Homo sapiens: one gene and its partners. The protein of the gene in region 1 interacts with the protein of each later gene in a pairwise test. Each region holds a gene or a part of one and is shown on either strand. Other genes may lie near its edges. The genes, in order: PDPK1, KATNBL1, ZNF133, ZC3HC1 and XPO7.

Region 1 (6,362 bases):
CAGGGCCCCGGGGAACGTGAAGGTGAGAGACAGAACATACCGTGAAGAAGCCACTGAGAGTGGGAGACAGAGGCAGGAACAGGGATGACACTGGAGGACAGCAGGCCTGCCTGGAGGCCAGCATTCTCTACAACCTTCCACAAACCAACAGCAAAGCCCGCTCCGGGCCACGTGCCTGGCAGCTGCTCGGCCACTGCCCCGCTCCTCCCTAGGCAAAATCCCAGGGAAGCACCTTGCGTCGTTTCCATTTCCTCACCTCTTACTCTTCCTTGAACAGTCCCCCCAAGAAACTGCCTACCCACCATCAACAACTGGCACAGGGCAGATCCACGGGTCAGGCTGTGTGCACCTGACCGCTTCATAACCCCTGCGTGGGCAGCCAGCACCCTCCATCAGAAATCGTTTGATCCCGTGGCCTCTGGGTCTCCATCATTCGAGCTCGGGAGCAACATCCCATCACCATCTCCTCTCCTCGGTGGGCCCCTCCTCGTGTTCACCCCTGCACTGGGGGGAACCCAGGCTCCACTCACAGAGGAGCCAACCTCTGGGCAGCCTGCCAGCTCGCTGTGAAAGTCCTCACGGCCCTGACTCCTCCTGGAGCTCTGCTGGCAGCACCTAAGTGCCCACTCAGACCTGAATGGTGGCACCAGCGGATGCATGAAATGCCAGCCCAGCACCCGCCCCGGTCTCTCCCAGCTCAGCAGCAGACACCGCTGTGCACTAGGCTTGAGGGCCACCTCCCAGGAGCCGCCCCTGACTCCATTCTCTTGACCGGTCTGTTCATCAGACCTCGACCACGGCCCCTGCCCCTGCTCTCCTGCCCGTTCTCCCGCCTGGCCTAGGAGAAGCCACAGCAAACCCCACGTTCCCCGCCACAAAGAGAAGGAAGTCCAGAGTCAGTGCCAGGCTGCCACGGCTCAGGGGCCCAGCCCACCACAGCCTTTCATGCCCCCCCACACACTCCTGCCCAGGAGCTGAAAGAGCCCCACACTGCCGCCAGCCCCTACCCAGCCCTAAGACTCTTGGCAGCGCATCTTGCTGCCGGGAAGCCTCTGACACGGATCGTCAGTGCACGTCCAGCTCCTCCACCAAAATCGAAGCTTCTCGTGGGCAGAGACGCCACCCGGCATAGCAGCGCATCCCCATCACCCATCAACCTGCACTTGGCAAGCACCTCCAAACAGAGAGAGCACACACACTCCGCCGGCAGCCGAAGGAGCTGCAGGATGGTGCTGAGAGTGGGAGCAGGCCAGAACGAAGCTCTAACACAGAAGAGCCGGGTGCTGGGGAGAGACGGGGAGGACAGGTGGGAGGACTCAGGCCCCTCCCCAGGCAGGATGGGGAGGCCACGACACTTGGGCCAGCTTGGAGGGTGGCGGGGGAGGAGAAGAGCAGATGCAGACTGCACCTGCTGGGGGTGACGACGGTGTGGCGTGGCCAGCCCAGCCACTGGCAGGCCCACAGGTCAGCTGGATGGGGCAGAGGTGGGGCCCACCCCAACTTCCACCGGGCCTTGCCTCCCAGATTCCTGAGCCAAGGTTTAATAACAGAAAAGATGGCGCTCTAGGGGAGCAAGGGACGCCGACCAAGCAAGCCGCAGCAGAGAGGACTGTGCTGGAGCCACATCGGTGGCTTCTCCGGGAGGTAACGTCCTGTGCAGACTCCCAGCCACACCCTGGCGCTGCCTCGGCTGCCTCCCTGAATGTCAGCGGCCTGAGGGACCCCACTCGGCAGGGAGCGGGGGCTGCTTGTGGGAACACACAGGGTCTGATTCCAAGTGAGAGGGGTGACTGGTGTGGCTTCAGACGGCACCAACCACGCAAAGGATACACAGCTTCTCGTCGTCCTGAAATGTGAAGTAAAGCTTAACAAAGAAGGGGTGATCCAGGCGCGACATGACATCCCGCTCTCTGGTTACATAGGGGACCTTGTTCTCTTTTATGATATGTCGCTTCTCCAGAATTTTAACTTCAGGTGAGAGAGAAGTGAGTTACTATCAGAAACAACAAAAAACACTAAAGACATGACTCACAAAGGTAACTGGTACAAATTAAAGTCTTTCAAACATTGTACACAACAGCCTGGTGGTCTCTAAAGCCAACAGTGTCCTGTACCCTGAAATCAGCACAGAAACACCGGCCCTGCCACCCCAGCCGCCCTGCACGGAGCCGCTTGCCCTGCTCCCGGACGCACAGCTCCCTGCAGCCCATACTCACTCGCATATTCTCTGGAGGTTGCCAGTTCTCGAGCCAGGACAACCTGGTTGGGAAAGAAAAGGAGAAAAAGAAACACACAATGTAATAACCAGGACACTGGGCCTGACGAGTCCCTCTGCCCCACACGCACGCTTCCTGTCCCCACTGAAGGCTTGAGTCTACAGTGAAATATTTTGGGTCTTGTACTGACAAGTAGAGCTAAAAGCCAATGCTCGTGTTGATGTGTTCTAACAGCTAAGAGAAAACATATCCATCTCTCTGTTGTTTCCAGAAGCTTCTGGATCAGCTGCTAACAGCCCTAACGGTGCAACACAAGTACAAACTCAGGAACCTCTTCGACTGCCACGCCCTTCACCAACAGAAGGAAGACAGTGGCGCCACCACAAGTGGCAGGGCACAGGGGCTTCTGTGACAACAATATGTCCTTCTAGTATACATTCATTGCAAAGGCTGCCCTGAAGTTTCGTTTTTGGAAATAACTGTTATCATACATTTTGTATGATGTTGCTTGTGGGCACCATGAAGAGAGCCTGGCTGTAAAGGACAGAGGGAGCTAAACCAGCAATGCATGGCCCTGCGTGCCCACAAGAGGGAGCCACCTGCCCGGGATGCAGCAGGCCTCCTGCCCTGTCCTCTCAGCACCCCTGAGCCCTGCACTCAAACCCCACCTCCGAGACAGAGCACTCCAGCAGGGCAGGCATCCCAAACAGGGGAGAGACCCTCCACTCGGACTAGCCTGGGGCACACCCTGAGGCACCAGACTGGAGATTCCTGGTGGGCCCACGGTTTAGCCAGAGAGCATGAGGCAGCTGTGCCAGGGAGGCCCCACCACCACCAAGTGGGACACAAGTGTCTCCTAAGACACCCACAGGGGGACGGCCTGAGGAGCAGGGAGCAGAGGAAACCTGTCCCGTGACATTCCTGGGGGCTGGCAGGAAGACCTTCAGGAGGCCACAGGGCCAGGTCCACCTGGCCCCGGGCTGTGAGCCGCAATCGGGGCAGGACTCCTGATGGGACACGTCAGAAGAGATCCTGGAAAGCACCATGTGAGACGCCTTGTGGCACTCAAGAAGAATGAAGTTGGATTCTGGGGACTCTACATACTCAAGGTCTTCCCAGAGGAATACGCCACGCATGGATGGCTCTCAGCTGCCAGGGAGAAAGGGGAAGTGGGCCGGGCAGGGCTCCCCTCTCTAGCTCATGTGTTTCTGTGAGGTCACGTTTCTCCACAAGAGCACGTGCTAGCTTCATAAGTAGAAAAGAGGAAGAAAGAATTGTGAACGAGCACCGATATTTAGTGGAACCCTTTCTAAGGGGATACTGATGTGATCTTTCCGTTGTCTAAACTCAACACTTCACAAGCAGGTTTCCTACAAGAAGGAAGGATCCTCTTCCAGAGAATGGCGCGTGACGTGTCCCTCCCTGGAGGTTGTGACCGTCCTCAGGGGGCCTCCCGGCTCTCCGGTGCTGCAGCTGGCTCTTGCCCAGCCTCCTATCACTGTCCTTTCCCCCTCCCCTGGAAATCAACTTTTATGTGATCTCCATTTCAGGAAAGCTGAGAAAGAACTGAGGGTAACACATGTAATCTGAGACCCAGTACTGTGGATTCCAAACAGCCCCATGGAGGAGCCTCCGGCTCACCGTGCTCTCCCGGGCACCTCCCTGGTGCAGGTTCAGAAAGACACGGACCACAGCCCCTGGAGGGACAGTGCCTGCTCTCCACCCATCTCCAGAACCCAGGGAAACAGGCAATTTCACAGATGAGTCTTCCTTTTTCAGTCAAGATAAATGTTAAGGGCCATGTATGGTGGCACATGCCTGTGGTCCCAGCTACTCAGGAGGCTAAGGCAGGAGGATCGCTTAAGCCCAGGTGGTGAAGGCTGCAGTGAGCTATGATCACACCGCTGCACTCCAGCCTAGGTGACAGAGCAAGACTCTGTTTCTAAAAGGATAAATACATACATAATAAAATAAAGTTAAATTAAAAAGAGACATACAAGGAAGTAAAACTGAGGCCAAGCACAGTGGCTCACGCCTGTAATCCCAACACTTTGCAAGGCTGAGGAGAGAATCACTCGAGCCTAGGAGTTCAAGACCAGTCTGGGCAACAAAGTGAGACCCTGTCTCTACAAAAAATTTTACAATTAGCTGGGCACGGTGGTGCATTCCTGTAACTGCAGCTACTTGGGAGGCTGAGGTAAGAGGATCACTTGAGCCCAGGAAGTCGAGGCTGCAGTGAGCTATGATCATGCCACTGCACTCAAGCCTGGGTGACAGAGCAAGACTCTGTCTCAAAAAACAGGTAAAGCTGAGAAAAGAGGAGGCCTGTTCTTTCACTGGGTGGTTGTAAGCAGCCATGCAGAATGCCCAAGGTTTTCCAAAGAGTTTCTTCTTTCTGAAAGGATCTGAGTCCCCAAAACTTTGGGGACTAGTCTCATGGTTGAAGGCATTTTTCATGAGGGCATAATCCTTTTATAAAAAAATTATTTCATAAAACCTGCAATTTAAAAAATCTAAAGTGTAAGGGCAGCAAAAGTTAACATTAATTAAAACAATATGTTGGGAATATGGGTAAGCTATATTTCATGTTTTTCTTTGCATTGTGAAATATTTCCTATGTGTAAAAAAGAGAAAAAAGGAAAATAAACCTCACCTACGGTTTCTTCACAAAGGTCAGGCAAGAAAGAATTATTCAGGAACTCACCCAGGCCCTCCAGAGTGAGGTGCCCCCAGGGCTCCCTGGAATGGCCCTAGCACGCACACGGCGGCCACCTTGGCGACCACAGTGGCGGCACGGGACTCTGTCTCTTTAGAGGCCCAGATGGAGACAGTACACCCCGAGTTGCTCAGGCCTCCCCTGAACCTGTTACAACCTTCACTAAATCCACAACCACACACGGCTTCATGGGTCCCACGTCAGCAAAACGTCCCATGTCAGCTGCTTTCGACCTTCATTTCTTTGCTTTCAGAGGAAAAAACACCCCGAAGACAGGTAACAAGTGTGACTTGACAGTACTGCGACAATACTCCTGTTTGTGAAACTCGGAACACAAGACTCTGGAGGCTGTGTCTCCAGCAAATGTCCAGAGCGTACTGTTTTATGTATTCAAAAAAACAAAACAGAGAAATAAGAAGAGGTCAATAAATGTCCCCAAAAACCCTGGAGAGATACTAACTTTCAATCTAAGAAAAAGAACAGCTTCCCAGGGCCCTGCCAGTGAGACACAAGGACACAGAATGTAACTTGCTGATGCCAGGTTAAAATGAAATTAACTACATCAGAAAAAACCTCCGCAGACCATCAAGAGATGTGTCTAACGTTCTCATCTACAAAACCAGGTTAAATATTTAGCCACACTCATCACGTCATCTGCTTGGGGGGTACCCAGCCCCCAAAGACTCAAGTGGCCTTCACAACAGGTGACACCCCTCAAGGGGCCTGAGACCTCCTGCCTGGAAGGACACCAGCCTTGCTTGGAGTCTCCGGCAAGCCCCGAGGAAGGTGAGCCTCCCCAAGGAAATCACGTACGTTTGACACACAGCAGCAGCAAATACTCACCGTGGAAAAAGAGCCTTCCCCAAGGATTTTCCCAAACTTGAAGTCCTCAGGCCGCTTCTTCCGAGGCTGCGGCGGAGGCTGGGCATGCTGCAGGGAGCCGGCGCCGGGCCGAGGCTCGGCTGCAGTGCCGTCCATGGCGGGGCCCTGCCTGCTGCCACCAGGAATGCCAGGGGGCGTGCTGGACTCAGTCTGGGTCCTCACCATTGATGGGGATGGGCAGGAACATAACACCACGCTGGACTGGATGGGCACGGCGTCATACTAGGCGACAAAGAGGAAAAGGAAGTAAGGCTCAAGGCAGCTGCCTTGCTCTCAATGCACGGACTAAGGTTTAAGGACCTCATTTCAACGCTCAAAAACAAACCCCAAGCACAGGGCAGGCCAGCTGAGCCCCGCGGTCTGCTGTGAGCTGCCGGCCTCCTCTCCTGAGTCCTGCCCGTGCCATGGCTCCCCGCTAATCCACCAGGCAGCGCCTCGCCCTCCTCCTGTCCCTCGCGCTGCCTGAGCCTCCAGCCAACTCATCCCAAGGCCAAGGTAACCTGAGCAGAGATAGCACGGCACATCTTTAATTGTGGGGGGGATGGAGA
Region 2 (6,362 bases), on another chromosome or scaffold:
AACTATACTAGAGATGCTGTTAAAGGAATAGCTGAGCAATTAGGGCTTACTAGCCAGATGGCTTGGGAAAATAGAATGGCCTTAGACATGATTTTAGCAGAAAAAGGGGAAGTTTGCATCATGATTAAAACTCAGTGTTGTACCTTCATCCCAAACAATACCGCCCCTGATGAAAGTATAACAAAGGCATTGCAAGGTCTAACTGCTCTGTCCAATGAGTTAGCAAAAAACTCAGGAGTAAATGACCCCTTCACAGGGTGGCTAGAAAAATGGTTTGGTAAATGGAAAGGGATCACAGCCACCATCCTTACTTCTCTTGCAATTGTAGCAGTAGTGCTTATCCTTGTTGGATGCTGCATCATACCTCGCATCCGTGGGCTAGTCCAAAGACATACAGAAACAGCCCTTACTAAAACTTCTCTCAGTTCCCCTCCACCATATTCTGACAAGCTCTTTCTTTTAGAAAACCAAGCAGAACAGCTATGCCAAGACATGTTAAAGAAATTTGAAGAGGAAGACCTGTAAAATTCAAAAGGGGGATATTGTTAAGTACAGTGAGTTCTGAGTTCCTCTGGGAACCAGTATGTCAGTATGTTCAGCTTTCTTATACTTTGTTCTCCATTTTAAAGTTTAACTTCCTCATTCTTTACACCTCCTTGCCCTAGTTTCAGTAAACAACCCCCTTCTAGCCTTTATACTCACATATTTAGAGTCCTTAGTCATCCTTAGTCACCTGCTCTGTCCTTAGTCATCCTTAGTCACCTGCACTGTAACCATCCTTCCTGCCTAAACTGCTCACCCCGCCACTCTGCCTCATACCCAGATAGCCTATCAGAATTAGTTTAGACTGTGCGGTCCAACCCTAGCCAATAGGGGAATGACACAGTAGTAGGGACTAGCTGCATTAGGGATAAGAACCCCTTCTCCTCCCATGCCCGGTATGCTCTTGCGACCACTCCAGGCACGATTGGCACCCTTCTGCAGAAGTAAATTGCCTTGCTGAGAAAGCTTTTTGCCGGAGTGCTGATTCTTCTTTGCGGCACCAAGCATTTGTTTCTAACATCAACTATCTACTTTCATTTTTCAGGTTAAGAAATCTCCAAAACAGTTGGCTGCTTACATAAATAGGTAAGAGTTTCTTTAAAGTTTGTGGGGAACAACAAATATGAAAGCTGGGTAAGGATGACAATAAGGGAAAAATAAGCATTCTTTTATCATAATAATAATTAACTTATTGTCAAACAGCTTCTTTATGCCAGTATCTGCACTAATAAACACATCAATATTGTCTCTGCTCCTTACAACAGTCCTACTCTATAGCCTACTCTATAGATAACATTAACCCTAACAGTTGATGAGAAAACTTAAGATCAGATAAGTTAAATGATTTGTTCAGAATCATATAGCTAGAAAAGTGGTAAGAATGACATTCATTCTCAGATCTGCCTAACTTCTAAAGGCACTTTCTACAAAACGACTGGTTTTCAAAGTGTGATTTGAGGACCTGCGGGTCCCTAAAGACCATTCATGGAATTTGTGAAGTCAGAATTACTTCCATAGCAATACTAAGACATTGACTGTCTTCATTTTCATTCTCTTGTTTGAGGGTACAATATAATTTTTCAAGAAGCTATATGCCATTTGATATCACAGTAGATTGAATGGAGAAGCAGAAATGAGAACCCAGCTGTCTTTTGTTAAACCAGATATTAGAGATATATAAAAATGTAAAACAGTACCATTCTTCTCACTTTTTAAAAAATTATTTTAGAAAATATGGGTTTTGGGTAAGATATTCCATGTTAATATGTAATTAGTCTTTTTTTGAATGAATTAACAAATGATTTAAATTTTGTTTTAGTTTTTACACAGTAAATATCAATAGATACTATTCACATAAAAATTATTTTGGCCATGGCTCACACCTGTATTCCCAGCACTTTAGGAGGCCAAGGTGGGTGGATCATGAGGTCAAGAGATCAAGATCATCCTTGCCAACAGGGTGAAACCCTGTCTCTACTAAAAATACAAAAGTTAGTTCAGCATGGTGGCGCGCGACTGTAGTCCCAGCTACTCAGGAGGCTGAGGCAAGAGAATCACTTGAACCTGGGAGGTGGAGGTTGCAGTGAGCTGAGATTGTGCCACTGCACACTAGCCTGGCAACAGAGAGAGACTGCATCTCAAAAAAAAAAAAAATTTTTGAGTCATTAATTATTTTTAAGAGAGCAAAGCATCGTGACACTAAAACGTTTGAGAACCACTGTATTAAACGATGAGGCTTGCTCTATCGTGTTCTTACTCAAATAAATCAATATACTTCAGCTTAATTAAATTTTAAAATATTCACACTTGCAGTCTTATTTGCCACTTTGTTAGAAAAAGATCAGGTTTCTAGAAAATGTTGTGGTCTTCTTACTCCCAGAATGGCCTTTAATATTTCATTTTTAAAAGCATTCTGGTTATTATGTCTGTCTTCATTTTTATTTGGCATAAAATGTCATCCTTTACATTGTCTTCCAGATAATTTGTAATTTCCCTTTTACTTTTCTCTTCAACTCAGAATTAAGATTTTTAAAATTCTATTTATTTCTAATTTTAGTGGATTACAATCACCAAATATAGCCTATTAATTCTCTGTTTAAAAACTTTTAAAGGATTTCATATGGTTCTTTTTCATTTAAGAAAATAAATTCTTTTTACAGAACAGTTGGACAAACTGTGAAAAGCCCAGATAAACTTCGTAAAGTGATCTATCGCAGAAAGAAAGTTCATCATCCCTTTCCAAATCCTTGTTACAGAAAAAAACAGTCCCCTGGAAGTGGGGGCTGTGACATGGCAAATAAAGAAAATGAACTGGCTTGTGCAGGCCACCTGCCTGAAAAATTACACCATGATAGTCGAACATATTTGGTTAACTCCAGTGATTCTGGTTCTTCACAGACAGAAAGCCCATCATCAAAATATAGTGGGTTTTTTTCTGAGGTAAGTCTTTTCTCTAACTCATATCTAGTTTAACTTTGTTCCTGTTATAATCTTGATTTTTTTCTTTGCCATATTCCACTAGCAGAATAATTTGTCACCTATTGAATGTAGACTTATTTGAGTCATAGTAACTCCCTGAGACAATTTTCTAGATTAACCAAATTTGAATTAATAATTTATTCCATTTCTCTAAGATGGGATGAAATGCTTAGCAGGCTGCTAAAACTATCCAGAATGACAAGTTAGCCAGTAGAGATTTAAAGGAAGGGAAAAGGAGAAATCTTGCCTAAAAAAGTGGAGCACTAGGCCGGACACAGTGGCTCACGCCTGGAGCCCGAGGTGGGTGGATCACGAGGTTAGGCGTTTGAGACCAGCCTGGCCAACATGGTGAAACCCTGCCTCTACTAAAAATACAAAAATTAGCCGGGCATGGTGGGGGGCGCCTGTAATCCCAGCTACTCAGAAGGAGGCTGAGACAGGAGAATCGCTTGAACCCGGGAGGCAGAAGTTGCAGTGAGTTGAGATCACACCATTGCACTCCAGCCTGGGCAACAGAGCGACTCCGTCTCAAAAAAATAAAAATAAAAAGGACAACATCTGCAGGCAGATCACCTGAGGTCGGGAGTTCGAGGCCAGCCTGGGCAACATGGTGAAACACCCTGTCTCTACAAAAGTACAAAAATGAGCCGGGCATGATGGTGGGTGCCTGTAATCCCAGCTGCTTGGGAGGCTGAGGCAGAAGAATCACTTGAACCTGGGAGGCAGAGGTTGCAGTGAGCCGCGATCATTCCATTGCACTCCAGCCTGGGCAAGAGAGCAAGACTCCATCTCAAAAAAAAAAAAAAAAGTGGACCACCGAAGCCAGTTATCCAGACACATTTTGCCGGGCTCTCAATATTGCCTGGTTAAAGCATAGTTCAGGCAAACCTGCTGTGGTTTGCTGCTCTTCTGGCTCAAGCAAAACTGGTTAACAGACTCAAAAGCGTTTTTGAGAGTGATAGAAATATTCTAAAACTGGGCCTGGCCAACATGGCGAAACCTCATCTCTACTAGAAATACAAAAATTAGCTAGGCATGGTGGCACACTTTGGGAGGCCAAGGCAGGTGGTCAGGAGTTCAAGACTCGCCTGGCCAACATGGCAAAACCCCATCTTTACCAAAAATACAAAAATTACCCAGGCGTGGTGGTGCACGCCTGTAATGCCAGCTACTTGGGAGGCTGACGCTCAAGAATTGCTTGAACCCGGGAGGCAAAGGTTGCAGTGAGCCAAGATCTTGTCACTGCACTCCAGCCTGGGTTACAGAGTGAGATTCTGTCTCAAAAAAAAAAAAAAAAAAAAAAAAAAAAAAAAAGTAGGCAAAGGACACAATAGACACTTTTCAAAAGAAGACATACATGTAGGTGACAAGCATATGAAAAAATGCTCAGCCTAAATGCTAAACCTAAAATCACTCATCATTAGAGAAATGCAAATCAAAACCACAACAGGATATCATCTCATACCAGTTAGAATGGCTATTATTAAAAAGTCAAAAAATAATAGATTCTGGCAAGGTTGTGGAAAAAGAACACTTATACAATGCTGGTGACAATGTAATTTAGTTTCAGCCATTGTGAAAGCAGTGCGACAATTTTTCAAAGAACTTAAAACAATCTTATTATTGGATATATACCCAAAGGAATATAAAACATGCTACCATAAAGACACATGTATGCGTATGTTCATCACAGCACTGTTCACAATAGCAAAGACAAGGAATCAATCGAAATGCCCATCAATGGTAAACTGGATAAAGAAAATATGGTGCATATACACCATGGAATACTATATGCAGCCATAAAAAGAACAAGATCATGTCATTTGCAATCACGAGTGAACCTGGAGGCCATTATCCTAAGCGAACTAATACAGGAACAGAAAACCAAATGCTTCATGTTCTCAGTTGGAGTGGGAGCTAAACACTGTGCTAGTGCATATGGACACAAAGATGGGAACAACAGACATGAGGCCTACCTTAGGGTAGAGGGTGAGAAGAGAGTTAGGATCAAAAAACTACTTATCAGTTACTATGCTTATTACCTGTGTGATGAAATAATCTGTACACCAAACCCCCACAACATGCAAACTACCTATATAACAAACCTGCACATGTGCCCCTGAACATAAAATAAGTTTGTTTTGTTTTGTGTTTTGAAACAGGGTCTCTCGCTCTATCACCCAGGCTGGGGTGCAGTGGTGCAATCTTGGCTCACTGCAACCTTCACCTCCCAGGTTCAAGCAATCCTCCCACCTCAGTCTCCAGAGTAACTGGGACTACAGGCATGTGCCACCACACCCAGCTGATTTTTGTATTTCCTATAGCGACAGGGTTTTGCCATGCTCCCCAGGTTGGTCTCGAACTACTGAGCTGAAGCGATCAACCTGCCTCAGCCCCAGCCCAAAGTGCTGGGATTACAGGTGTGAGCCACTGTGCCTGGCCAGAATAAAAGTTCTTTTTAAAAAGTTTCAGTTGTGCATTTTAAAAACTACCCCAGTGAGACATCTTTCTCAAGAACCTCTTTTTACTTTACATTCTCATTTTCACTACTTTTCACTAAACCTTACATTTAACTAATAGGTTTAATGATTATTCTTGTTTCATACCTGTTTTCTTGATTGACCAGTACCTGCTCTAAAAACCTAAATCTGAAAGTGATACCATAACATCTTAGCCAAGTTAAAATACATATAACCATTGACCTAGCTGTTCCAATTGTAAAATTAATTTTAACAAAAGTGTCTGTACAAGTGCACATATTTACATATATCAGGATGTCCACTCATCAGTTTTGATAGGTAAAAACCAGAATCTAAATAAATTATGGTATGTAAAGACTAGAGAATATGCTATTGTTTTTTGTTGTTGTTTTTAAGAGATGAGGTCTCACTGTCTCACTGTCTTTCCCAGGCTGGACTCAAACTCCTGAGCTCAAGTGGTTCTCCCACCTCAGGTTCCCAAGTAGCTGGGACTGTAGGCACACAGCACTATGCCAGGCTATGCTGTTGTTCTTTAAAAGTAAAGTTGGGCTTGGTGTGGCGGCTCATGCCTGTAATCCCAGCACTTGGGAGGCCAAGGCAGGCGGATCATGTGAGGTCAGGAGTTGGAGACCAGCTTGGCCAACATGGCAAAACCCCATCTCTACTAAAAATAGGAAAATTAGTTGGGTGTTGTGTTGGGTGCCTGTAATCCCAGCTACTCGGGGAGGGTGAGGCAGGAGAATTACTTGAGCTTGGGAGGCGGAGGTTGCAGTGAGCTGAGATTGCACCACTGCACTCCAGCCTAGGCAACAGAGCAAGACCCTGTCTCCAAAAAAAAAAAAGCTTGATCTGTGTTTTGAC
Region 3 (6,362 bases), on another chromosome or scaffold:
GCAAACTGCCCAAGTGAATGTCTTCCCTTCTGTGTTTCACTGCCTGGCCAGTAAATAAGCTCAACTTTTCTCCTTTCAGTAGCTCTGGTGGCCTTTACCTCAGGCTTTGATGACAGACAGAGGAACCAACAATCTAACCTGATGCCTGCCTCTCCCCACGCCAGTGCTGAGGAGCTCCTGCAGAGAAAGCCTGCTCTTCCAGCCCTTGTATTCAGGACAGGTGCCGGGTGGTCCCTCAAGACCCTTTTTCAGCAGTAAATCCTACCTGCTTTCACTGAGTTCTCACTAAGTTTATTTGGTTTAATCTAGGTTGTCTGAGGTTCCACAACTCATAACTGATTTTGTGTTCTATTTCTGGCCAGCAACTTCCTTGACATTATGGAAACTTGAGTTGGGTGGAGTTGTCAGATTTGATTTATTGGCTATTTTGTTTCTCTTGAATACGACAGGAGAAGGGAAGCAACAGCTCATATCTCCTTGGCTTACCTTCATACATATTAGGGCATAGTCATGGGTAAGTAGGTCTTTCAGCAGTAAAAGGAACTCCTGTGTCTGTCCTGAGTTAAGCACAGTGACTATAATTTTGACACAGGTAATACCTCCCACCCACCCTTATAAGAACCAAGGCTTCTGATATGTAGGCTTATTACAGCCCTAGCTGCTGTGCCTATGTGTAAAGTGGCAGGCTTTTATTTACACTAAATGTATTTCAGAATTATAGAAGCGCCTTCAGAGAAATCTTAATTCAACATGGTTTTAACATTTGTATGGAGTGACAGAAGAAAAACAAAACTTTAATTCTCCATTAGTCAGTTTTTTCAGTTGGTCACCAAATTTGGCATTCTGTGTATACACTAGGAATATTTAGTCTTAGAAGAAATTTTAACACAAAATATTACCAGGTTAATGAATTTATTTATAAAATATTTTAAATCTAAGGTGCTCCTGCACTGATAGGTTTATAGAGACTAATGGGCACTGACACAAATTTAAAATTTAAAAACTCGAGAATAACTAAATTAAAAAAAAAAAATCAGGCCAGGTGTAGCGGCTCACGCCTGTACCAGCACTTTGGGAGGCTGAGTCGAGTGGATCACTTGAGGTCAGGAATTTGAGACCAGCCTGGCCAACATGGTGAAACCCTGTCTCTTCTAAAAATATAAAAATTAGCTGGTTGTGGTGGTGTGCACCTATAATTTCAGCTACCCAGGACGCTGAGGCAGGTGCTTGAACCTGCGTGGCGGAGGTTGCAGTGAGCCGAGATTGCGCCACTGCATTCCTGCCTGGGCAACAGAGCAAGATTCTGTCTCAAAAAAATAAAAAATAAATAAAATTGAAAATTGAACTCCTAATGATTCAAATATGCCAGTTTCTGAAGGAAATCTTTCTTGCTGCAGCTGAAGCTCTGGCTCTGAAGAAAAAAGTTTAGCTGTGAATTAAGCCAGGCACCTTGCTTATTAGGTTGCACGATAAGAAAGAAATGTGAGGCACTCAGAGCTTATTTACTACAATATGTAAACAACCTTACTAGCTGGTATGTAACTAAAGGGTGGAATCAATATTTCAAAGTAAGATAAAGCCTGCAAATAAGACAAATGCAATGTCTTTTCCCTTATTTTATCAGTGTAAACATAACATTAGCATAATATTCTAGTGATATAAAACTTGGTTCTGATATGTAGGCTTTCTCAAAGAAAGTTTAACTAATCTAAACTTCCAAGACTAATATATAGGTTCAGCATCCCTAATCTGCAAAGTTCCAAAATCTGAAAATCTTTAAGCACCAACATGCAGCCACAAGTAGAAAATTCCACAGCTGATCTCATGTGACAGGTCATAGTCAAAACACAGGCACATAAAATTCAGTTTATTCAGCATCCTCAAAGGAAAAATATAATTACCTTCAGGCCAAGTGTACAAGGTGTACACAAAACATAAATGAAATTCCTGTTTAGACTAGGGTCCTATACCCAAGATATCTCATTATGTTTATGGTAATATTCCAAAATGCAAACCAACCAACCAACCAACCAAACAAACCCAAAATCTGAAACACTTATGGTCCTAAGCATTTTGGATAAGGGAGAGTCAACCTATACTGATTTTAAAAATCAGATAGGCTAATATTGCCTTCATAAATATGTAAGATTAGGCACATGTAGATATATGTGTCCAACTAGTATCTTATAATTTACAGACAGTGCCAGAAATTACGTGAATCTACAATTACTTTACTCAAAGTAAATACCAGAAATGGCATATTTTTCAGGCAGTTTTTAACTTAAGACTGATTAAGTTGTTTTTCAATTTCTAAGATCTCTGTTAGGAAATCATTATAAGAATAAATATTTTTGTTAAAAAATTCAAAAACAAAACTATACAAAGTGTTCTCATGCAATAATTTTACTTGTATTTTTGCCTAAACTAATGAGATCAGCCTTATGTTAATTATTTGAGACTGAAACTTAAAACTTTAAATACCGTCCATCAACACTATATATGCTTAAAAACATGTACAATTATTTAGCTTGCCAATAAACAGAAAAAAGCTTAAACTTGACAATAATACTGGTAACTAAAAAAGAATTATAACTTGGTGTATTTCTGTCCTCCATATGAAAAATAACTAATTTTTGTCTTTTGTATACTCAACTTAGAAATAAAAGCTCTATTTTTACCTCACCAGATATCCAATTTCTCATTCTTTATTTTTTAAATTTCTTACAGATAGGATCTCACTCTGTGGCCCAGGCTGAAGTGCAGTGGTACAATCATAGATCACGTAGCCCAAATTCCTGGGCTCGAGCAATCCTCCCTCCTCAGCTTCCTAAGTAGCTGGGACTACAGGCACACAACACCTCACCCTGGCTAATTATAAAAATTTTTTTAGAGACAGAGTCTCGCTATGTTGCCCAGGCTGGTCTTGAACTCCTGGCCTCAAGTGATCCTCCTGCCTTGGTCTCAGCCTCCTGAGTAGCTAGGAATACAGGTGCAAGCCACAGCACCTGGCTTTAGTTCTCATTCTTAGGCTTCTGTGTTACCTCTTACCAGGCTTCTTAGTCAATATAAATAACAAGGATTAGTCACTTCAGGAGGGCATATAATTCTTCATAATTATGGTAACTCCTGTTACTTTTAAAAAACTAATTAATTTTTAAATTGACAAAAAATGTATATATTCATTGTGTACATTTTGAAATATATATACATTGTGACATGGCTAAATTGAGCTAATTAACATATTGCATCACCTCACATACCTATCATTTTTTGTGATGAGAACACCCAAAATCTACTCTTAGTGATTTTCAAGAATACAATATATTGTTATTAACTGTAGTCATCATGTTATACAATAGATCTCTTGAACTTATTCTTTCTATGTGAAAATCCTTTGACCAACATCTTCCCCAACCACCCCCATCCCCTAGTAACCACCATTGTATTCTCTTTCTCTATGAGTCCAACCTTTTTAGACTGCACATATAAGTAAGATTGTGTGGTATTTGTCTTTCTGTGACTGGCTCATTTCACTTAACATAACATCCTCCAGGTTCATCCATGTTGTTGCAAATGATTCCGTTACATTTATTGAATTAGCATTCTGATTAATGAAACAGCCGAGAAAATTAAATACTTTTCTTGTAACTAGCCTATTTTGAGGATTCTGATATTGCCTGTCTTAAATCCAAGTCCCAAATATAGAATAATGAAACCGTTAAGATGTATTTTATACCTAGAACAGTCTTCCTCCCGTTACACATATATTTTGGGTTTCCAAGACAGCTTCCTGGGCAACCACAATGACTTGCTCCTTGGATTGTACAGCATTCTTTTTAATGTGCTCAACATCATTGTAAGAGCTGCTGTTTTTCTTTAAATTAAAACAAGGATTAAAAACGAGACAAAAAAGATAGGTTTCGCTTTAAGACAATGATAGGTAAGCTGCTTGTTATTAATATAAATGTTTTGATAATTCTATACTTTTCAGGTTGAGAAAACACATATTTGTGTAAATGTACAAAGGTCAGGGTGTATAGCATTTTCCCAGCCTCCACCTGCCAATTCTAGAATGAACACACAGGTCAGATAATGCCCCTACATCCTCTCCTTCTCTGTCCAACATTCCTTCCATGTCCTTGGCTAGACACCTCTCTTGTTCCTTGAGAGGAAGATTTTTGTAAGATTCCCTCAAGTAGATAGACAGCTTCTTCCTTTCATATCTCAAGCATTACACAGTGGGATGAATGTCCTTGTTTTGTAATGTGGCTTCCACACCATTACCTACCATACTTTTTTTAGGACCATCCACAGGTCTCCTGGTTTCACACACTGCCCTGAATATTTGATCACCTACCAGCCTCACATCCTCTCCACACCAATACCTGTCAGCACTCTCAGGGTGCTCCACAGGGCTGAGCCTCTGGCTAAGACTCCAACTTCTCAGCAACACTGACCTCACCTGCACTGTGAATGCTGTTCACAGACACTGCACAATCTTCACATTCTCTCCTGTGCACATTCCCTTCTCTGACACAGCCTTTTCTTCTACCTTCTGACTCACTTTGCTCAAGCACCATGGGCACATTGGTTCCTGACCTTATTTGGGGCTCCAATCCATGACCTTTCAGCTTATACACCAGTCCCTCATCTTTACTCCTTCATACAACTGAGATCCAATGGACTTACATATCCAACTGACCTTTTATGGAACTATATATTCGGCGGAGAGTCTATGAAATCACTATGGTGCTCTCACAAGGATGCTGTTATGGACTGAGTTGTGTTTCCCCCAAATTCTTATGTTGAAGCTGTAATCCCTAATGTGACTGTATTTGGAGACAGGGCCTTTAAAGAGGTAATTAAGGTTAAATAAGGTCGTAAGGGTGGGCCCTAATCCAATGGGGCTGGTGTCCTTTTAAGAAGAGGAAGAGACGACAAAGATGTGTGAGCATTGAGAAAGGGCCATGTGAAGACACAGGGGGAAGGTGGCCATCTGTAAGTTCAGGAGTGAGGACTCAGAGCAACCAAACCTGCTGACAACTTGATCTTGAACTTCTGGCTTCCAGAACTATAACTAAATGAATTTCTGTTGTTTAAGCCAGCTAGTCCACAGTATTTTGTCATGGCGGCCCAAGGTGACTAATACAGATGCTTTACTTCCTTTGCCCTGACCTTCCTTCTTTCCTATTGCTGTAGTAAAACACCTACTCATCTGCCTCAGTCAACCCCTGAGCAAGTCTCATGAAATTTATCTGTTATTAAGTAAAGTCACTATTAAAAGTTAACACCACTTGGTTTGACAGCAAATGCAACACCAGCTACATGCTGCTGCTTAAAAGCAAAACACCCAAATGACAATGTTTTTATTTTAAAATAAAAGGATGAACAATAAAATACCAAAAAGATGCACCAGAAAGTACAGTGCTAAGACTAAAAAGAAATAAAGAGGAAGTTAAAGGAAACAATAGCTCATGGAACTAAGAGAATTTCAGCATTAAAAACTTCATTAATGAGTAAGATAAAAATATCCTGAACCTTTCTATACCTAATAGAACAATAAAGTGAAATATAACACAAAAACTTAGAAATAAATGGAGAAGTTGATATAAATTACGACTGTGGAGAGCTTTAGGATTCCTTCTAACAGATGAACAGTAAGGATACAAGCAAGTTGAAAAACAGCGACAATTTATATTATGTATGCTATGGTCCCTCAATTTGAAGACAGAATTAATCAATTTAATAAAAACAAGAGGAGAAAATTTCTTACCCAGAAAAAGAAAATATATACTTCTGTGCAAACATTTATAAAACTGTCAAAAGAATTTTAAAAATTAAAGCACATATATAATTTCTTAAAGTTATCTATGTGTCTGTCATTTAAAAATAATGCAAAGTAGGATGAAAAATTCTCAGCAGCCCCTTGTCCAACCCTCCCCAATTCTATCCCCACAGAGGTAACCACTAGTAATGGTAAATAACAACAGACTTCTATGTTCACATAAACATATGGATATATACTCTTTCATACACTTCTCTTTGTTTAACAACAAACTCAACTGCATAGTATACAAAATCCTATAACTTTTTCACTTAATAAGTTATCCACTTAGTGTCTGATTTAAAGAAGATAAAGTAAAATTTAATTATAATTAGTGAACAGATAGGAAATCTCACCACAAAGAAAAGTGTAGTAAAAGTGAATGGAAATTGCAGAACTGAAAAATAAGTGAAATGAAGGATTCACTGGCCAGAGCTTAGCACATTGGAAATGACAAATGAGACAGTAAACTTGAAGACAGACCAACAGAAATCATCCAGTCTAAAGAACAGAGAGAAAAAAAAGATTTAAAAATATG
Region 4 (6,362 bases), on another chromosome or scaffold:
TTATTTATTGTGAATAAGTACTTATACTTAATGTGATGCCTAGCTGAGGTTAACAGTATAAACCAAGGACAACTAATAAAAACAGAGTTGAATGACCCCTATGAGTTTAAGCTCTGGCCTTGGTCTTCACCGCTTTTATGTTTTAGCCAGCAGTGCTAATAATAGGAAGAATCGCAGTGCCATCTGATCATGCCAATGAAGTACTCTGAGATTCTGAGAAATGGTGGTAAAGGGAGACAAAGTAATTCATTAGGAGACAAAAGCTCTTGGTGAATCAGAACACTTGGTTCTGTCTGCCTTTGAGAGTCACAATGAAGAGCAAGTATTCCACGCAGAAAGGGTCTCAGTGAGAGTACAAAGAATGTCTAGCAAGATGATCCACAGTTACCTCCAGTTTCTCATATGACGCTTTCACAGGTTTTTTTTTTTTTTTTTTTTTTTTTTGAGACAGGTCTCGCTCTGTCGCCAGGCTGGAGTGCTGTGGTGCCATTTCAGCTCACTGCAACCTCTTGACTCCCTGGTTCAAGCGATTCTCCTGCCTCAGCCTCCTGAGTAGCTGGGATTACAGGCATATGCCACCACGCCCAGCTAATTTTTGTATTTTTAGTAGAGATGGAGTTTCACCATGTTGGCCAGGATGGTCTTGATCTCCTGACCTCATGATCTGCCTGCCTCGGCCTCCCAAAGTGCTGGGATTACAGGCGTGAGCCACTGCGCCCGGCCCACTTTCACAGTTTTTTAAAAATCTATCCTCTTTGAGGATGTTTCAATAAGTTCCAGGAGGAAAAAGTTTGAACTCTTACTAATGACTGAGGGAAATTTAGTTAATAGAGTGACAAAGTTGAAAGAAACCTGAGTTGAAAAAATAGTATACACTTTTTTCTTTTTTTTTTTTTTTTGAAAGGGAGTCTCACTCTGTTGCCCACGCTGGAGTGTAGTAGTGCGATCTCGGCTCACTGCAACCTCCACCTCCCAATTCTCCTGCCTCAGCCTCTGGAGTACTGGGATTACAGGTGCACACCAACAGTCCTGGCTAATTTTTGTATTTTCAGTAGAGATGGGGTTTTGCCATGTTGGCCACGCTGGTCTCGAACTCCTGACCTCAGGTGATTCCCCTGCGTCAGCGTCCCAAAGTGCTGGGATCACAGGCATGAGCCACTGTGCCTGGCCTCGGTATATACTTTTTTTTTTCGAACATCAGGATCCTTTACCACACAGTCTCATTAAGCTTTCTAGCTTCGTCACAGCAGCTGTCAGAAGGTTAAGACACACTACCGAAAAAAAAAGTCCTGGAATCCAGGGCCAATTATGAGGCCAACTTTTCCCACTACAAAACAAAAACAAAACCCATAGGCTTTCTTTTTCGTATGGCAGTGACAGAGAGGAGTCTTACTGAAAACTGCCAATGTACTAGTTCCTGAAGATCTAGGCAGAGAAATGCGGATTTTTTTTTCTGTGAAAACTTGGAAAACCTTCACCTGCATATTTACTAAGGGTACTAATATACATTTATTTTTATTTTATTTTTTTTTGAGACAGCGTCTCTCTCTGAAGCCCAGGCTGGAGCGCAACCTCGGCTCACTGCAACCTCCGCCTCCTGGGTTCAAGTGATTCTCCAGCCTCAGCCTCCCCAATAGCTGGGATTACAGGCGCCTGCCACCACACATGGCAAATTTTTTTTTTTTTTGTATTTTGAGTAGAGACGAGGTTTCACCATGTTGGCTAGGTTGTCTCAAACTCTTGACCTCAGGTGATCCATTCGCCTTGGCCTCCCAAAGTGCTAGGATTACAGGCGTGAGCCACCACACCCAGCCATGCAATTTTGGACTTTTAGCATTACTATAGTTCCCTCCAGTGGAATCCTGTAACCCTAGAAAACCATGAATCTAGGAGTGCTGCTCATAAATATCTGCTGACAAGTATTATTTTACTTTGTCCTTGAAAGTTATAGACTACGATCAGAAATTGTTACCAGCTACAAGGAAAATTTGGGAGTGAGCCAGCGAAGGAGAGAACCCAGTTTTCATGGTTCCATATTACCCAGCCTATCACTTCCAATCTTTACACAGAGCAAACACTTGACTTTTCTTCTCAGTTGTCACCCACATTTGTAACCCACAGCAGTTATGGCTGCAATGGCTAGCAGAGTCACAGTCTGGGCTGTGGAACAGAGTAAAGTAATGTGCCCAGCGTGCGGAATGAGGCCATCATCTTGGTGTCAGAGCCCAGTGCTCCAAACAGCTAAGTTAACTGGCCAGGCTCCAAGTGCAAGTGACAGCAAATGAAAGAAAAAGCAGCTGTCTGCAACATGAGGCCGGAGCAGCTGCCTGTTCATCTATTTCTGTTTCCGTACTCCTTTTCTACTTGGAGTCACTTTATTTAGGAGAACAAAAGAATTTATCAGAACTTGACGGAATGCCATATGCTAAACTACAGAAAGACGAACCGGTTCTATGCCTAATCCCTAGGACGAAAGCAGAATGAGTCTAACTTGACGTATAAGCCGGGCACGGTGGCTCACGCCTGTAATCCCAGCACTTTGGGAGGCCGAGGCGGGGGGATCACCTGAGGTCAGGAGTTCGAGACCAGCCTGGCCAACATGGTGAAACCCTGTCTATTAAAAATACAAAATTAGCCGGGTGTGGTGGTGGGCGCCTGTAATCCTAGCTACTTGGGAAGCTAAGGCAGGAGAATCGCTTGACCCAGGAGGCGGAGGTTGCAGTGAGCTGAGATCGTGCCATTGGACTCCAGCCTAGGCAACAAGAACGAGACTCCATCTCAAAAAACAAACAAACAAACAAAAAAACCCAAATAACTTGACGTATGAAAGCTGAAGGCAGGCGGGGTGCTAATTATAGGCCCAGCCTCTGCTCCACCTCCCATAAACAGCAAGTGCTGCCCACACACAAGGCAGTGGCGTATCTCACCATGGAGTCCGTTTCAGCTGGCTGGCTAGACTGTTTGTGCGCCAAGAGGATGGTCAGCACTGCTTTCCAGCCTGGCTCTGCTGGGGCGCTGGCATCTGGTTCAGTTCCACCATTCTCCCTGCTTTCTTTGCCAAGTGTGATATTCACCCAAGGGCACCAGTCTCTATGCTGAGAGGTGGGATCAAAGAAGCTTCGGGAAGATGTGTCCTGAGGAAGGAGAAAAAGAAATAGCATTCATAGGTAGATGCTATGTAAGTTCAGGGAGGCACTGCTGTTAGTTATCAAGTCCAGAATCTCACAACTACCCATACTTCGAGTGTTTATGCTCTCCTTCAAACTTTGCCTACACATTTTCCTCTCATTTTCTTTATTTTTTCACTCCTTTTGTGTTAAACAAACTATACCTTATCACAAGGGATAAGGGATACCCAACCCCCAGGCCATGGATGGGTACCAGGTCGCACAGTAGGAGGTGAACAGCAGGCGGGCAAGCAAAGCTTCATCTGAATTTACAGCTGCTCCCCATTGTTTGCATTACCACCTGAGCTCTGCCTCCTGTCAGATCAGCAGTGGCATTAGATTCTTATAGGAGCAGGAACCCTACTGTGAACTGCACATGAGAGGGATCTAGACTTCGGGCTCCTTATGAGAGTCTGACACCTCATGATCTGTCACTGTTTCCCGTCACCCCCAGATGAGATCATCTAGTTGCAGGAAAACAAGCTGCAGGTTCCCACTGACTCTATATTATGGTGAGTTGTACAATTATTTCATTATATATTACAATATAATAATAATAGAAATAAAGTACACAATACATGTAATGTGCTCGTATCATCCCGAAACCATCCTCCCAACCGTGGTCCGTGGAAAAATGGTCTTCCATGAAAACGGTCCCTGGTGCCAAAAAGGTTGGGGACCGCTGCCAGATCAGGTTTGTCCCTGTATCACACCGTTGTTCCATTTGCCTGAAATATCTATTATTTCTCCAGAATCCACTCCAAAGGAACAAAAAGGAGCAAAAAACATGACTGACATTTTTTCCCTTTGGTCATCCAACTTTAAATTTATTCACATGGTCTACTTTTTGCATTGGACCACGGAAGGGCTCCTGCCTGCTTCTCCATGCTGCCTAGGGAGGGCCCAATATGCTGTTTATGCTCAGCCACTGCTACATGCGAGGTGGACTCACCGAACTGCTGGAGGAGCAGAGGCGAGCTCGCTTGGCTTTCCGCAGAGGGCTAGATGGTACCTCCAGGCCAGGGGTGTCTCCTGTTCCCATGCTTCGGGTCACTGGGCGAGTTCTGGTGGTGGGGCTAGCAGCCTCTGGCTCAGGACGGTCAACAGGACTGGAAGAGTCCCAGCTCCGAGTTCGAGAGACAATGGGACCAGGGCTCTTTTCAGCCTGAAGGAAAGGGGAGATAATGGAAGTACACGAATGATATTAATGATTATGGTCAGAAATACTTCTTTCTTTAATCTTTTTTCTTTTTTTTTTTGAGACAGAGTCTCGCTTTGTTGCCAAGGCTGGAGAGCAGTGAGGCGATCTTGGCTCATGGCAACCTCTGCCTCCCGAGTTCAAGTGATTCTCCTGCTTCAGCCTCCCAAGTAGCTGGGATTACAGGTGCCTGCCACCACACCTGGCTAATTTTTGCATTTTTGGTAGAGACGGGGTTTCACCATGTTGGCCAGGCTGGTCTCAAACTCCTAACCTCAAGTGATCTGCCTGCCTCAGTCTCCCAAAGTGCTGGGATCATAGGCGTGAGCCACCGGGTCTGGCTGAATTTAGCTTCCCCATTAGTGAACAGAAACACTATGTGGTATCGTAACCAATGTAGTGGGAAGAGAAGCCTATCCACCTAAATTAATTTCCAACTTTCTACCAACAACACTTTTGCCAAGAATGTTGTTTAAAATTCCACCCCAAATAAGCTAAGTGAATACCTGCTCTGAGCCTGGGGAGAAAGTGGCATCCTGGCTCCGGGTCATCATCCTCCGAGGAGATTCAGGCACCAGAGGTAAGCGCTCTGGTCGCCCCTCAAGGCCTGGGATTGGGGAGCTGGTCAGGCCAAAGGATGCATCCAGGTCAGTCATGGACGATTCAATCTGCTGGAAGCCCCAGAGCCCCACCTTCCTCATACATTGCGAACATGTTATCAGGGAGAGCTGCATGGATTCCAAAGAGGAACTAGATAGGAATGAAAAAGAGAGTTTTCTCAAAGTGTAACATTTCCAAATGACTAAGTGCAATGTCTTGTGAGTATGCCTTATCTCATCCAATTTCTGGAACAGTCACCATGTCCTATCAGAGCCTCTGTGCTCCAGTCTCAGGACCCAGCTTCATACTTCATCATCTCTCACATATTTCCCATAGAAAGACCTCGGGTTCTTAGTGTGCTCTCTATGGTAAGACTGTTTTGCAGGCATGTTTTAAAAGTTTCTCGGCCGGGTGCAGTGGCTCATGCCTGTAATCCCAGCACTTTGGGAGGCCAAGGTGGGTGGATCACCTGAGGTCAGGAGTTCGAGACCAGCCTGACCAACAACAACAACAACACAAAAAGTTTCTCCTGTCCCTCTTTTTTTTTTTTTTTTTTTTTTTTTTTTGAGTCAGAGTTTTGCTCTTGTTGCCCGGGCTGGAGTGCAATGGTGCGATCTCAGCTCACTGCAACCTCCGCCTCCCAGGTTCAAGTGATTCCCCTGCCTCAGCCTCCTGAGTAGCTGGGATTACAGGCACCCGCCACCATGCCCGGCTAATTTTTGTACTTTTGGTAGAGATGGGGTTTCACCATGTTGGCCAGGCTGGTCTCGAATTCCTGACCTCAGGTGATCCACCCGCCTTGGCCTCCCAAAGTGCTGGGATTAAATAAGTGTGAGCCACCGTACCCACCCTCTCTTGTCCCTCTTAAAGTCTTTTCCCTTTAAACAAAAAACATTCCTTAATCTACCAAAGAGAGCATATTTAAAATACATCAAGATTTATTTACTGTCAGAACCAATCTTGATGTATTTTAAATATGCTCTCTTTGGTAGATTAAGGATAGTGGGAGTCTATGCCAAATTGAGCAGCTGGAATGGAAATAGCAACATGGGGGCCTAGAAGACTCCAGCTGGTGTTTCCTATGGTAGTTTTTATCAATTAAGCGGATTTTTCTTCCTTTCTAAAAATAGAAAAGAACTTCCTTTCTATTTTTCCTTCTTAAAAATAGAAAAGAGCTTATTTTCTTTCCATTTTTAGAAAGGAGGTTCACTGTTTATAGAACACAAATTCAGCCTGGTGTGGTGGCTCACGCCTGTAATCCCAGCACTTTGGGAGGCCGAGGCAGGCAGAACACGAGGTCAGGAGATCAAGACCATCCTGACTAACACGGTGAAACCCCGTCTCTACCAAAAATACAAAAAATTAGCTGGGCGTGTGGCAGGCACCTATAGTCCCAG
Region 5 (6,362 bases), on another chromosome or scaffold:
TTTGTTTACCATTTTTAAAAAATGTTTATCGGTAACCTAAGTATATAGGGCTGCTTTTAGGTGGGAAGGAAGATACTTCTTTCAAACGTTAATTTCATAACTCGATTGCCCTTTTTGTCTTTTGAAGTCCCAGTGATTCAGTATTTTTTTGAAAGTATCACTTCTCTATACTAGAAGAAAATTAAAAAGCAGTTTATTTCAAAATATACTCAGTTTTGTCCCTCTTTTTAAAATTCATTTATTCATTCAACAAATTACATTGAATACCTACTCTGTGCCAGGGATACACGGGTGAACAAAACAAAGTCTTAGCCCACATATGCTAACAGAAGAAGACATATCAGGAAACTTACAATTAAATATACTGGTAGAATAGATTTTAAAATAGCTGTAATATTTGCTATATCATATAAATACTACTATATGAATAAATTACAGTAAGTGATATAAATATATGAAACATTTGTATAACTTTGCTAACTATCGGTTAGTTGTGCTGAATGATCAGTTTGACAGACGTGGAAATGAAAATTTCATTAGATTTCCTTTGATTGGTAACAATAAGAAAACAAGTCAGTCACGTCTTAGGTCGTGCCCACTTCTGCTATAATGAGCTTTACAGCCTCAGTGTGATCCTCCTGGGCTTCTGTTTCAAACTCTGTCCATTGAGGCTAATAATGTCATCTCATGTGATTATTATTGTGAACATATGAGATAATAAATGTGACTGTCCCTTTTCAAAGTGACTTTAAAAAATTGTTTCTGAACATTATGCAGACGTATCATTCTGAATCATGACCTGCAGCCCAGAAGTTAAAAAGTAGATTCTACCCCTTCCCCCATGCCATCTCAAGTATACATCATTCTTGAAGTATGTTAAGGCACATTTTACATTTTATTTTTCTCCTCTGCTACTGCCAGAGTTTATCAGACCCAAACAATTACCATGAGTTTTGCAGACTACTGGCCCGATTGAAGAGTAACTATCAACTGGGAGAATTGGTAAAGGTGGAAAACTACCCTGAGGTCATCCGATTGATAGCCAACTTCACAGTGACCAGCCTACAGGTTTGTCTTTGATTACTTGTGTCTTCCTTCCTAAATACTGGAATCTCTTGCTTGTTGGTTTTAACCATGTAAGAATATATTTTTTTTTCTTGGCAAAGGTAACCATAAGTCCAGTATAGCCCTACAGAGTAGTTACTATTGTGGCCTGTGATTTACATTTACACAAGTGCAAGTAGTGTGGGGAGAGGAACATGTGGGAATTACTAGGATAATATTTAGATTCATCCCAGAGAGAATTAGCTCATAGTCACCCCAAAAAAGCCAAGGTCGGAACAGGGAGCTAGACAGAAGAGTAAAAAGAGAGTTGATGCCCTCTCTTTCTTAGTCATGTAATATAGAACAATGGGTCTCAAATTTTATGGCTTGTATCACAGTCATCTAGGGGACTGATGAAAAAATATAGATTCTTGAGTCTTATCCCCATAATTTCTGGTTCAGTAGGTCCAGGGTAGAGCCTTGGTGTTTCTAACAAGTTCTTCAGGTGATTGTCATGCATACTAATGGTTGAGACCCACTTACATATGGCTTTCCTTATGGTAAGGCTTACACAGCCAGCATAGAGTAGCCCTTCTCATTAGATGCTTAATCTTGAAAATACTAATAAACACATTAAACTAGATGCCATACACAGAACAAAGCCCACAAAAGTCTATCCTCTTTTTTTAAAAAAAAGAAAAAAGTCTTTATCTTCTGTGTCAGTGGCATGGGACTAACACGTACAGAAATGAAAAATATGCCTTCTGCTTTTCTACTTTTCTTTAGCACTGGGAATTTGCTCCAAATAGTGTGCACTATCTTCTGAGCCTGTGGCAGCGGCTGGCAGCCTCTGTGCCGTATGTCAAAGCCACAGAGCCCCACATGCTGGAAACTTACACTCCTGAGGTCACCAAAGCCTACATCACATCCCGGTTGGAATCTGTGCACATCATACTGAGGTAAGGAAACTTAGCCTCATTCATTCCCGCACCAGTGGCCTGTTGTCACACTTCCTAGAGATCAGACACCCCATTGGCAAAGAGGTACTCGAAGCGTGTCTCATTGGAGCCACTACTGTTCATGGTTCTTCTTCCTTGTCAGCAGAGTAGCATGAGAGCATAAAGCCTGATAGAATAGTCTTGTCTCTTGAACATTTATATTCTATTCATATTCCCCCTTTTCACTGTCCATAGCAATATCTTTGAATAGAGTATATCCATATAATGTTTGTCCTTGCCGCTGTTTTTCTTTCAATGTGAGAAACATTTATAAGATATAGATGATAAGAATTATGTGTAACTTATAGGTGCTTAATGTGAACTCCTAAAGAAATAAGTGGATAAAGATTACACAATCTAGTTATCAATTCTAATTCCAGAGCTAGAACACATAAGAATTCTAAGCCACTGATCACTGATTGCTTTACATTCATACATGGTTTCTGTCTACATTGACTTAACTGAACCAAAATCCCGTAGCTAAAGAAATGTCAAGCCCTTTCAAAAATTACCTATATTAAATGAAGTTATAGCCCTGTTTAGGTAGCTTTCTTGTTTTCACTGGCTGTTTGTCAAGAGAATTTACTTGGAGTCTAAGGGTCTGGGGCCTTTTTAAGTTGGATTCTTAATTTGCTTAGCCCCAAGTGCATTGAATAGTCATGAGTTATAGTCTTAACTGTTGATGACTTGAATCAGTTCAAAATCTGAGTATTCATGAAGTTCACCAGCAAGCCTTCTTCTGTCACCTCCATAGCTTCCACTCCTGAGGATTCGGCTGGCTTCAGTGAGGCATTGTTGGGGAGTGGTTACATGTTTGTAGGCTCTGGGGCCGGATAGCCAGTTAGTAGCTCTGTACTCTTGGGCAAGTTGCTCCATTTCTGTATTTGTAAAATTCAAATAATAATAGGCCTGCCTCATAAGGTTCTTACAAGGATTAAATTAATATGACCTGGCACAGTGTGTAGCACATGGTAAGCACACAGCTAGTTTTAGTGCTGCTGCTCCTGCTGCTGCTGCTGCTGCCATTATCATATTGCAGTGTAACAACAGAAGAGCTCCTCATTGGACAAGATGTTAAAATCTAGGAGCTGGCAGATAAGGCAAGACCTAGTACAGGGCCACAATGCCTTGTCTGCAATTCCAAAGTCAAAGATGTGACAAAAGAAATTTCCTCATCAGTTTGGCATTAGAATTCACTTGTTACAAAACCGGACGGGAGTTGGTATGAGACCATTTGTAGTTTTTTTAAAATCCTACTTAGTATGACCATTTATAATATTCATAAGTTTTGCTACAGGAACGTTGAGTTTGATGTGCCACAAAGCCCATCAAGGGTTTTATATGATATGGTAGAAGCATCATACTGCCTTCCTCCAATTTGAACAGTTCTGAATTCCAAGACACACCTGGCCACAATGGCCTCCCACACAGGACTGTGTACTTATCCTACAGTTTACTATAGTCAAGAACAAGCGAAAGACTAAGAGTCAAGAGGTCAGACAGTTGAGAAGGGCAGGACTTTGAGGTTTAAGGCAGAAAAACATTAAGAGTTGAGAATTCAGATTGTAAGATTTGACACCAACAAGCAGAATATACCTAAGGGAGACTGATGCTAGGGCGAAGACATTGGCCTTCTGCCTCATTAAACATTCTTCCTTGGTTAAAAGTAATGTCGGGATGTAGACCTCTACAGTCAGAAATGGTGGCTAAGTGAAGAAGTCAGAGAGCTGCTATATTGGGCAAATCAGTAGTCATATTTTAAGAGAGCTGCCTTCCTTCTTCCCTTGGGAATAGAGATGGCCTGGAAGATCCCCTGGAGGATACGGGGCTGGTCCAGCAGCAGTTGGACCAGCTGTCCACCATTGGGCGTTGTGAATATGAGAAGACGTGTGCACTCCTCGTGCAGTTGTTTGACCAGTCGGCCCAGTCGTACCAGGAGCTGCTACAGAGCGCCAGCGCAAGCCCAATGGACATTGCAGTGCAGGAGGGTGAGTGTGCAGCGTGCTGGGAACTCTAGACCTGTGAGGAGATGTTGTCTAGTACCCCTTCGCTCATTGCCACCTCTTTCCTACCTCCCTGCAAAAGGATTCTTTCATCATCTGTTGTCTCCATATGCACAAGAATCTTTATGAATGAATAAATCCCTCAAGGGACTAGGGAAGAAGAACTGAAATCACATCTGCAGTGGGATTTTGTTTTAAGAGATGAGGTCTCGCTATGTTGCCACGTGGGCCTTGTACTTCTTGGCTCAAGTGATCCTCCTGCCTCAGCCTCCCGAAGTAGCTGGGACTACAGGCATGTGCCACCACACCTGGCTCCTGTCTGCTTTTTAATGCCCCACAGCACAGCTGGGACCAGGCCAAGAGGTTTATGACTGCTAAATCAAGGGCCAGGGGAAACAGGGAGATAAGTACAGATAGTAACCTGGGCTTCCTCTTTTTACCGGGCCTGGCTGGTGTTTGTAACATGGCACTGTGCCCAGCTTGGGTGTTTTTAACTCTAAGGAAATACTACACTAAAAATAATGGCCTTGTCTGATACAGGAACATTGGTTACCTAACGAATTTCCCTCTTAGCATTGCCCTTACCAAAGCAGAGAAGTAGCCATTCTCTGTAAGAAAAGTAAGACTTCATGGTTTCACCACAGTGTTCTTAAGATTAAGGAAGTTCAGAGTGAGGAATGTCTTCAAGAAACTATCACTGGAGGTGACACTGGGTCTGTCTCCTGCTGCAGGAAGGCTGACATGGCTGGTTTACATTATTGGAGCAGTGATCGGTGGCCGGGTTTCTTTTGCCAGCACTGATGAGCAAGACGCCATGGATGGTGAGCTTGTCTGTCGGTAAGTGCTCCCCACAGAAGCTCTCCACTCTGCCTTGCTGGCACTTCTCCACTCCCCGATAGGGTCCTCTCCACTTACAGAACGTAATCTGAACATGCTAACTGCCCATGAGACACAGCTTTCAAGGCTTTTGTAAGTGCCATGATAACTCTGCCTATGATCTTTACTTTAAAATAAAAAACCAGCAATAATTCAGAAAGGAAATAATGGATACGGAATTAGGAAAACTAAAGCAGAGATTCTCTGTTAGGTCTTTTTACGAATAGTATCTCAGAGTTAGTAAAATATGGACTGCTTTTGCCATCCCAAAATAAGTCTAAAAGGAAACTGCAGTTCTTTAAAGTTCACCAGAGATGGAATTACAGAGTTCCTACAGCCTTTCAAATCTCTTGGCCATACATTTCAAGTTATTTTTCATCTGTGCAATTCTCATTTTATCAAAACTTTTTTTTTTTTTTTTTTTGGAGATGGAGTCTCGCTCTGTCACCCAGGCCAGAGTGCAGTGGCGCTATCTTAGCTCACTGCAACCTCTGCCTCCCTGTTCCAGGTTCTCCCGGGTTCAAGCGATTCTCCTGCCTCAGCCTCCCAAGTAGCTATGATTACAGGCATGCGTCACCACATCTGGCTAATTTTTGTATTTTTAGTGAGACGGGGTTTCACCATGTTGGCCAGGCTGGTCTCGAACTCCTGACCTCAGGTGATCCACCTGCCTTGGCCTCCCAAAGTGCTGGGATTACAGGCATGAGCCACCGCGCCCCGCCTTCAATATATATATCTTCTGAAAATCCTCATTTGTCTCTTTCCACCCCCATTTTGTTTATCAGATGCCCATTTGCCCAGAGGTCCCTTAATCCTGACAAAAGTCTCCGTAGCATTTTCCCACTGGCATTTTTTGAAGAGTTGAGCAGAGCTTTAATAAGAATGAAATCTAATGCCTTTCTGATTCTGCAGCCGAGTTCAATACTGTGTGTGTCATAATATAAATTTAGTTCAAACAATGTCTTGCAGATTGGTTCTGAGCTTGAGTGTAGCAACACAATGATGGAGTCTCATTCACTCATGATGTGTCACAAATAGTTAACTATTCCCACACTCAAATATCAAATGACTCACTTATTATGACATCTGTATTCGCATTCACTCACTTGCATTCCAGTATCCTTTCTTTTGGGGAGAAGGTACAGAGAAAAGAGATGAAGTCACAGGTAATATTTCTGCTAGTAATCCCTGGAAGTGTTACCTACCTGTGAACATCATCCTTCATGTGTCTCCAAAAAGATTGAAAACTCCTGGTCTAGTCCTGCCTCCCTCATTTATGTAGATGAATTTGGTTGCAGGAGGTTGCTGTACCCAAGTACAGGCATATACGACCATGTCAAGATAGCTTGGGTTGTCTAGAGTAAACAGGATGTCCTGCTGTTGAGAGAATCATTGCTCCTCTTCCTCCAGGGTGCTCCAGCTGATGAACCTAACAGATTCT

What was found.
Region 2: the proteins of PDPK1 (region 1) and KATNBL1 interact in a two-hybrid assay, tested with the Homo sapiens proteins (one large-scale study listed by BioGRID and IntAct).
Region 3: the proteins of PDPK1 (region 1) and ZNF133 interact in a two-hybrid assay, tested with the Homo sapiens proteins (one large-scale study listed by BioGRID and IntAct).
Region 4: the proteins of PDPK1 (region 1) and ZC3HC1 interact in a two-hybrid assay, tested with the Homo sapiens proteins (one large-scale study listed by BioGRID and IntAct).
Region 5: the proteins of PDPK1 (region 1) and XPO7 interact in a two-hybrid assay, tested with the Homo sapiens proteins (one large-scale study listed by BioGRID and IntAct).

Annotation. Positions count from the first base shown.
Region 1 is NC_000016.10:2,557,377-2,563,738, reverse strand, and holds part of PDPK1 (3-phosphoinositide-dependent protein kinase 1), read right to left. Parts: intron 6,037-6,362; coding exon 5,776-6,036; intron 5,760-5,775; exon of another isoform or gene 2,260-5,759; coding exon 2,217-2,259; intron 1,994-2,216; exon of another isoform or gene 1,969-1,993; coding exon 1,831-1,968; intron 1-1,830. UniProt on the Homo sapiens protein: Serine/threonine kinase which acts as a master kinase, phosphorylating and activating a subgroup of the AGC family of protein kinases.
Region 2 is NC_000015.10:34,149,410-34,155,771, reverse strand, and holds part of KATNBL1 (KATNB1-like protein 1), read left to right. Parts: intron 1-1,087; coding exon 1,088-1,128; intron 1,129-2,702; coding exon 2,703-2,982; intron 2,983-6,362.
Region 3 is NC_000020.11:18,307,681-18,314,042, reverse strand, and holds part of ZNF133 (zinc finger protein 133), read right to left. Parts: intron 3,875-6,362; exon of another isoform or gene 3,765-3,874; coding exon of another isoform or gene 3,737-3,764; intron 2,683-3,736; exon of another isoform or gene 80-2,682; intron 1-79. UniProt on the Homo sapiens protein: May be involved in transcriptional regulation as a repressor.
Region 4 is NC_000007.14:130,019,392-130,025,753, forward strand, and holds part of ZC3HC1 (zinc finger C3HC-type protein 1), read right to left. Parts: intron 5,116-6,362; coding exon 4,872-5,115; intron 4,333-4,871; coding exon 4,120-4,332; intron 3,135-4,119; coding exon 2,928-3,134; intron 1-2,927. UniProt on the Homo sapiens protein: Required for proper positioning of a substantial amount of TPR at the nuclear basket (NB) through interaction with TPR.
Region 5 is NC_000008.11:21,980,810-21,987,171, forward strand, and holds part of XPO7 (exportin-7), read left to right. Parts: intron 1-921; coding exon 922-1,068; intron 1,069-1,830; coding exon 1,831-2,003; intron 2,004-3,836; coding exon 3,837-4,030; intron 4,031-4,776; coding exon 4,777-4,882; intron 4,883-6,331; coding exon 6,332-6,362.